Regions from separate parts of the Homo sapiens genome. Here region 1 is linked to region 2. The links come from fine-mapping of genetic effects on gene expression. A gene starts in region 2. The other region holds a variant in brackets. All regions are shown on one strand. Distances are from middle to middle.

Region 1 (4,395 bases), 96 kb after region 2:
CCAGGGACCTTTGCACTTAGGAAACATTGTCTTGTGGCCTATCCCTTGCTCTCCAGTTGAAGTGACCTCATTCAAAGATTTCACATTTGGAAAAGGCAAATCAGAAAATCACTCAGACCCAAGGGAGGGAAGGAGGCCAGGCTTGGGCTGGGGGCGGGGGCTGGGAGGCACCCTGGTGGGCTTGAGACCCAGGGGCTGGGGGCAGGCAAGTGAGCTGCCTAGGGCCGTGAATGAGGCCTTGTTGAGAGCCGTGGCAGCTCGGCAGTGTGCAGAGACCATGCTGCAAATGTAAAGTTTCCAATAACTTTTATGGGTGGTTTCTTAATAAACATCTGAGCAGCCTGTCTGGACCGAGAGCTGTGTTGTCCCAGGCGCCCAGAGATGGAGCTGGGTGAGGGGCTGCTGTCTGCAGTGTCAGCCTCTGCACCCCACCCACAGCCTCCCACGGCATCCCCTCCCCATCTCCCCTTTGTCTTCCTCTGTCTTCCTTTTTACTTCCTTTTCGCTGTTTAATGAGAACGACTTCCATTTGCTATTTGTTGACTGAGTCCGGCACTGCATTAAGCTCTGTCTACATTTTGTCTTAGTGCTTGCAGGCACTTTATAAGGTAGACGCAAGTATTGTGCCACTTTTACACATCAGGGAACGTATGAACACATCAGGTTGCTCAGCAATGAAGTGGAAGAGCATTGATAGCCCTTTGGGCACAGATCTGTGTGCCTCCAAAACCCATGCTCTGAGCGCTGGTAACCTCTACTCCTCCTCTTCCTCACCTTGTCAGCATCAGCACTCCACCTTCCCTTTCCTCCTCCGCTTCGAATCTCAGAGCCAACTTCAGCTAGTGCCTCTCCCTTCGGAAACACCTCCGGGAAATACCTCCTCCCAGATCACCCCTGCCAGAACCAGCAACGACTATGAGTACAGCACGTGGGTCTGCAGGTTAGTTGACTTGTCTGTGATGGGACTGATTAATCGAATGCTGAGACACTTTTGTAGCCATTTGAAAGCCATTTGGGTTATTGGCCCTGGCTTCAGATAAACAAGATAAATAAACCTCAGCAAGAAGGAAATGGCTTCTGGGGTCTTTCTCAGAATTTGGTACATCAAAGTGAAGTCCTAGATGGAAGGGTACACTTCCCACAAGCACCTTCCAGTGGGGTCCCTTGCTTTGTTTAGTTGACTTATCACTAAACATATGGGCTATAAGATTGATAATATGTTTTGTAAAAAGGGTAGATGCTCAATGGCCTCGTTGGGCCTATCCAAAGATAGAATGCTATGGGAAAGGAAAACACCTTAAGAAGAAAAGTTCTTGGGTGAGGCGCGGTGGCTCACGCCTGTAATCCCAGCACTTTGGGAGGCTAAGGTGGGTGGATCACTTGAGACCAGGAGTTCGAGACCAGCCTGGCCAACACGGCGAAACTAAAAATACAAAATTTGCCAGGTCTGGCGGGGGGTGCCTATAATCCCAGCTACTCAGGAGGCTGAGGCAAGAGAATCGCTTGAACCTGGGAAGCAGAGGTTACAGTGAGCCGAGATCATGCCACTGCACTCCAGCCTGGATGACACGGCAAGACTCTGTCTCAAAAAAAAAAGAAGAAGAAGAAAGGTTCTCAGATGTCAGGAGACAGAAACAGTGACCTTGAAGTGTAAACACTGAACCCTTAGCTCACAACAAATCAGTTAGAATGTATTAGCTGCATTAGAACTGTCCACACTGACTTCAACCCTGTATTTCTTGGGTCTGGAGCCTTTTGTAGGGCTCCGTGTGTGTACATATTCTGCAAACTCCTAACCTGGAAGCAGTCATTTGGTGGCTATAAGCTGTGAGCAAGAAATGCTCCAATTATCTGTGCATTAAGATTAATCAGAACTCTGGTCACCGATGCATATATGTGTGATGCTGAAGCACTGCCTTCCAGCCTCTCTGTGGTTGTGTTTGTCTGATAATTATAAGATCCGTGAGGACAGAGGCCACAGATCAGGGATGTCCTTCTTCCGAGATG[G/A]AGACAAGGGCAGAGCAGGTGGCAAACTGTGGCCTTGTGTTCCAGGGGGGCGTGTCCACACTTCACACTCTGATTGTGCTGGCTTGCAGTGTGGCTGGGCCTCTCGGGTTGCAGCACCCTCATTTGTTCTACCCTAACACAATCAAGAAAGATAAAAAAGAACACTGTAGCCAGGGAATCTCAGCTGCTGTGCCAGTCACCGGCCATTCATTGTGTGGGGCTGAAGATCTAGCTGGGAGTCAGGTCTAAGAACTGGTTCAGCTCCTCCCCTTGCCTCATCTGTGAAGGCTACTCAGAGGAAAGAAACATGCACCTAGGCTCTCGAAGCCTTCACTGAAGGACAGAGAGTGCTTGTTACAGGCAGTTCCTTCAGGGTTGAAATTCCATTTCAGGTCTCAGCACCTAAAGTCATTTTTCTTTCTTATTTATGTTTCCTGTGGAAAGTCTGAAGAAAAACTGGTGGAGCATCTTTTGAGTTTGCATTTGGAAGGGAGAAAATATGCTCCTTCTCTGCTGGGCAAACATTGCAAACATTGGTGCTTTCACAAACCAAACACAAGCTGGTTTTCAAAGCCTCCGGCTTGGCGACCCAGGGAACTGGGGGGAGGGGAGGAGAAGGATGCAGCCACCTGGGCTGGGGAGGTTTGCTTTGGGAGCAGAGGTTGGAATTTGTGAATTTTCTACTCCAAGAAGATCCAAATAGTGCAGCTCCAGCCCCATCCTGCGCAAGCTTGCTCAGGCAATAGGGGCTCTACCTGGCTGGGGTCTCGATGGAGAGCCAGGGCCTTGGATGATCACCTCCCCGCCCCAATGCAGCCTGGAGTGAAGTGGAGAGGGGAGGGGTGAAGAGGTGTAGGAGAGACGGTGCAGATGAACCAAGATGGCCTCAGGGATTCTGGTCCCTCTCTCTGGGTGATGCTGAGGATAGAGAGCGGGGGTGAGAGTGAGAAGAACATGCCTCTGCACCCACAAATTTGCCAGGCTTTCAAACACTGACCAGGCAATCCACTGGGCAGTTGTTCCTATAAAGCTAGGACTATGAGAATAGCAGATGTATACTATGGTCTGTCTGGTTCTTTCAGCGTAGTCTGTAGCAAAAGGTTTCCTCACTCCCTCCTTTTCTTCTTCCTTCCTTCCACTTCTTTCTTGACAGAATAATATAATAAATTTCCAAGCACTCATCACTAGCTTTAATAAGTATCAACTAATGGCCAATCTTGTTTAATCCATAACTGCACCTACTTCACCCACTCTTTGTCCTCCAACTGAAATGTTTTGAAACAAAATCTAGACATCATATCCTTTTATCCATAGATACCTAGATTTAAAAAAAATTTTTGATATTGAACTCTGATGATACAGGGAATCTCCTTCCCGGTATCTTAGGGAAAAAATGCCCTTCATAAGTCTACATATAAATTTTGCAAATCATTGTAGGGGTTCAGGGAACCTCCGAAGCTCATCTAAAGACCTTAAATTTAAACCCTTGGTATATAGGGTAATCGCTAGCTCCCATAGAACACATTGTTTTTGGTAGCCTGGAGCTATTAGCTGTTCCTTTGAAGGAGATTTACTTTCTTGTTTTATTTGCAATAGGTATGCACTGAGTGCATTGTGACCATGCTGGGTTATTGTGGGTAAAGGTGAGAGAAGGCAGGGCACGCAGGGCAGATGATTACATTCCTGCCGGGAGGGCTGGAGAGCCCTTGGAAAGCAGCCTGCAGGCTGAGGAAGGAGGGACTCCGGGATCTGCCCTCAGGGGCTGCAGGAAGGAGGAACCTTTTCTGAGTAAGCTTTCCTGGGGGTTTGTTTATTGGCCAGCGTTAGGTCTCTGAGTGGTTGTTAATGTGTTTGTTTAGGGTCCATTGTGATGTCTTTAAGATAAAGACCTGCTCAGTTTACAGGCAACTGTCAAGTACTGGGCTTGGAGCCCAGGGAGCCAGTGAGGGAAGCATTTCCAATATGGCGATCAAAGCCACACTTAGGGCCTTCCTAGGCTCCTGAAATAATCTTGGAAGGCACTCTGGGAGAGGATCAGCAGCATGCACAGGGTTAGACTAGAGGGGCTCTTTCAGGCTGGACAAATAGCTGTTGAATAAGGAAACAGACTTCTTTGTTCTCTTTTTTTTTTTTTTTTTTTTTTTGTTTTGAGAGGAGGTATAGGAGCAAAGCCATTTTAGATGCTAGGGGTTCTTTGGAGAGAGCCCAGAAGCTTTCTGATCTTAATATCCAACTCTTTTGCTATTTCCCCTACCTCCTCATCCCACCTCAGGGTCAGCAAATCTCCATGTCTGCAGACCCAGGGACCTGTAGTTAAGCTGCATGGAGCCTAAAAAAAGGCACTGTGGTGCTGGTGCTTGGATACACATGGCAGGGGACACAGAAGTA
Region 2 (4,395 bases):
CACCTGAACATTACTTTGCTCTTCCCACTTTAGTGCCTGGGCACACTGCATCCCTTGTCCAGGTGGCTACCCTGGCCCTTTCCACAGATTCACATCCCATTCCATCATTTAAGACCAGTGATAGTTGTACCCTTATTAAACCTTCACTGATTACCACAGGTCAAGGAAACCTTCTTTTGGACTTCCTCTAACCACATGTTGTCTAAACTGGATCACTGCCTCCCAGGTTCAAGTGATTCTCCTGCCTCAGCCTCCCGAGTAGCTGGGATTACAGACATGCACCACCACACCCGGCTAATTTTTGTATTTTTAATTGAGACGGGTTTTCACCATGTCGGTCAAGCTGGTCTTGAACTCCTGACTTCAGGTGATCCGCCCACCTTGCCTCCCAAAGTGCTGGGATAACAGGCATAAACCACCATGCTCGGCCTGCTTTATGTGGCATTTTAATAGTTTCGTACGCACTGATAAGAGGGTTGGACTAGATCAGGGGTCAGCATACAACAGCCTGTAGGCCAAATCCAGCCCTTCTCACATTTTTGTATGGCAGTAAGCTGTGAAAGGTTTTTATATTTTTTAGTGGTTGCAAAAAGTACTTCATGACATGTGAAAAATGTTAAGTTCAAATTTCAGTATGTGCACTACCTTCGTTCATTCACGTATTATCATGGATGTTTTTGTGCTACAACAGCAGAATGGATATTGTGACAGAGACTCATAAGCCTGCAGTTTAAAATATTTACTATCTGGTCTTTTACAGACGAAGTTTGCCAACCACTGGACTGGATGGCTGCTAAAGTCATTTTTCCTAACTAGACTGAGAACTCCTCCAGGGCAGGGATCATGATCATTTTTAAAAACTCTCCCACAGCTCACTAAAGACTTGCAAAGTCTATGCACATTACAGGACCCCAATAAATACTTGTTGAAAACGTTAATGAACTGATGAACTACATGAAATACAAATATATGAAAAATGTAAAATCGGCTTAGATACAGATATACCTCCATATTCTACTTTAAAACACACTTTTAACTTGGACTTGAGAAATCATATAGTGACAAACAGTGAAAGGAACATAGAGACACGCGTGACTAGAGACGCTCTTATTTAACTGGAATGTTCATGTCCAAATTTCTGCTGTTTTCCAAAAAGAAAGATTAAGTGACTAGGGCAAATAGGAAGGCAAAAAGGTGGAAAGGAAAAAACAAGACATCTGGGTATGCTGATCCCTTTCCTCCCGTTTTTTCTTCTCATTCACTCTTGGAGCTCATGACGGGGGCAGAATCCCACACAGAGCTCTTCCACCCCTGGAAGCGTCAGTGAGGGAGAAAATTCGCCATAACAAGAGGAGTTTAAGAGTGCTGACCTGTAAAAACCGCTCATATTCTTCTCCTGAAATCTCTAAGACAGTTATAGAGGCACAGGACACAGAAATTCATGCAGACTCATGTATAAGCATCCCTTACAGACCCACAATGACACGCACGTAGACAAAAACAGACAGATATTAAAACATATCTCTAAAATCACGTGCGTATATAAGCACGCGGCAGGGAGGAACAGAAAAGCAGCATCATAGGAGCACTGATTTGAATTGGGTGAGTGCCAGGGTAGGGTCAGGCAGCCAAGGGCAACCCGTCCGAGCCCCACCCACCCATCCCAGATTCCTGGGGAATGCAGCTGAGCCTGCAAGCGGAGGGGACTGGCCAAGGGGCTAGGATCCTTCACGACTGCCCTGCCCATCCCCCTCTCGGCTCCAGCTTAGGATGCCGTATCTCTTCTTTTCCTTTCTGCTCCTTTCAGTTCTCCCTACCGCCTGCTCCCGGCCCATACCTTCCCACCTCACTCCCAGCTCTCCCCCTTGCTCTTCACTCAATGGCCCCTCTTGCCTTTTAGTCTTAGCTCTCCTCCGCCGCTGCTTTCTTGCAGATTGTCCTTGGGAAAGGGGGGAGGGGTGATGGACGAACATGGGGAGGAGCCAGGTGGAGGCAAAGAGGGAGGGGGAAGGAGGAGAGGCTTCCCAACCTCCACTAACAGATGCTGACAAGAAGGCTCCGCCTCCTCCTGCTTGCCTTTCTCCTCCTCTTCCTCCTCCCCCTAAGTACTCAGCTCAGATATGGCAGCGGCTTAGTTCCTTCACTCCCCAGAGTCCTGGGGTCCTCATATCTATCTCGAGAGCCATCAGCATCTTTATTTAATGGGAATAATAAATTATTTCGTTGCTTCTCTTGTTTTCAACACAGAACTTTTTCCTAGTCCAGACTGCCTGAGACACCTTGCATTCCAACATCTTCAGCAACTGCTAATAAAACCTGCCCCTGTGGCCCTCTATCCGTCTTTAAGCAAACATTTCTTGGGAGTCTGTGTGCTAGATTTTGCATTAGGTGCCGAGAGGTTTAAAAAAAATAAATATAGTCCCTGCCTTTGAGGAACATTGAATTATGACATCTTCTATAGAATAGCCTCAAAAACTTCTTTTACATTTACATTACCTTTCTCAGAGAAAGTACAGAAAAGCTAGCTATTTGGAATGAAAGTGTCAAGAGGGAAGGGCGTGTCTGTGAGGCCACTTCTCAAGCCTGCAGTGGGGAGGGATGGGGGCGGGATTCTGGCAGTGAAGCAAACATATAAATTGGGCTTCACAGCAAACAGGATCCACTCTGGAAAAAGGGTCAGATGCTCCCAGAGCAAGAGGTGCATCCATTACTCAAGTCTCACCTTCCCTTTGCTTCATTGTCTCCACAGTCGGGTCTCCTCTTGCTTTTACCACTGCCCTCTTCCTCTTGCTTACTTGTATCTCTACCTCTGCACATTCTGGCACAAACAATACAAATGCAAGTGACTAGGAGATAAAACCCCATTTGACTACACAAAATAAAAGCATTTGTTCTCCAAATTATACCATCAAGAAAGTGGAAAGACAACCCACAGAATGGGAGAAAATATTTGCAAATCATGTATCTGATAAGGGGCTGGCATCCAGAATAAATAAAGAACTCATTTGCAACTCATTAAGAATGTAAACCAAAAATAAAATTATAAGCCCCTCAACCATCTGAATAGACCCCTCCTCTCAGTCAAGGGTATTCCAAAGTTAATCTGAAAAACTAGTTCAGACGTTGATGGAAAGGGGAAGCCAGACACACTTCATTATATGCTCCTCCCTTTTGGAATTACTGATAGAACAGACTCTTTAAGTCTGATAAGAAACATTTACAATCTATTCTCTGAAACCTGCTACCTGGAAGCTTTGTCCACCTGATAAAACCTTGGTCCTCACAGATTGCTTTTCTATTAAGTCTTTGGACAATAACTTAACTCTTTTCACCAATTTCCAATCAGAAAATCTTTGAATCTACCTATGACCTGGAAGCCCCGCTCCCCCCTCCCTGCTTCCAGTTATCCCGCCTTTCTGGACTAAATGAATGTACATCTTACATATATTCATTGATACCTTATATCTCCCTAAAATTTATAAAACCAACTTGTGGCCCGACCATCTTGAACACATGTTCTCAGGATCTCCTGAGGGCTGTGTCATGGGGGAGCTATTGGTCACTCGTATTTGGCTCAGGATAAATCTCTTCAAATGTTTTACAGTTTGACTCTTTTCAGTGACAATAAAAAGAAAATACCTCAATTTAAAAATGGGCAAAAGAGTTGACCAAAGAAGATATACAGGTGGCAAATAAACATGAAAAGATGTCAACATCATATGTCATTAGCGAACTGCAAATTAAAACAGTGAGACACCACTACACACCTATTAGAATGATTAAATGATTAAAATTCAAAAATCCAAATGCTAATGAGAATGTGGAACCACTGGAACTCTCATTAATTGCTGGTGGGAATGCACAATGGTACAGTCACTGTAGAAGACAGTTTGACAGTTTTTTACAAAGCTAAATATTGTCTTACCACATGATCCAGCAATAGCACTCCTAAGTATTTAGCTGAATGAGCTGAAAATTATGTCTGCACAAAAAACCTGCACATGAATGTTTATAAAAGCTTTATTCATAATTGCCAAAAGCTGGAGGCAACCAAGATGTCCCTCAAAAGGTGAATAAACAAACTGTGATACAGCTATACAATGGAATATTTTCCATCAATAAAAAATTATCAAGCCAGGAAAAGACATAGTGAAACGGGCCAGTGTGAAAAGGCTGCATACTGTATGATTCCAACTGTATGACAGTCTGGAAAAGGTAAAACTACGGAGACAATAAAAATATCAGTTGTTACTGGGGCTTGGGATAGAGAAGGAGAGATTAATAGGTGGAGCACAGGGGATTTTAGGGGCACTAAAATGATTCGGTATGATGCTATAACAGATACATGACATACATTTGTCATGACATTATGCATTTGTCAAATTCATAGAACTA

Evidence for each region. PIP is the estimated chance that this variant, and not a neighbour inherited with it, causes the effect. A credible set is the group of variants that fine-mapping cannot tell apart.
Region 1: its variant is the best candidate, but not a certain one, in a credible set for the expression of PFKM in whole blood (INTERVAL, PIP 0.51).

Annotation. Positions count from the first base shown.
Region 1 is chr12:48,021,365-48,025,759 of GRCh38, reverse strand. All of the region lies in intron 2 of LOC105369750 (a long non-coding RNA gene), which reads right to left. It overlaps LOC124902927 (a long non-coding RNA gene), which reads left to right and starts at 3,585. Exons shown (of 2, transcript XR_007063293.1): 1 at 3,585-3,795. RefSeq lists an enhancer at 3,251-4,242. The variant G/A (reference allele first, on the strand shown) is at 2,008.
Region 2 is chr12:48,116,905-48,121,299 of GRCh38, reverse strand. PFKM (phosphofructokinase, muscle) reads right to left here and starts at 1,936. Exons shown (of 23, transcript NM_000289.6): 1 at 1,894-1,936. RefSeq lists an enhancer at 2,271-2,340.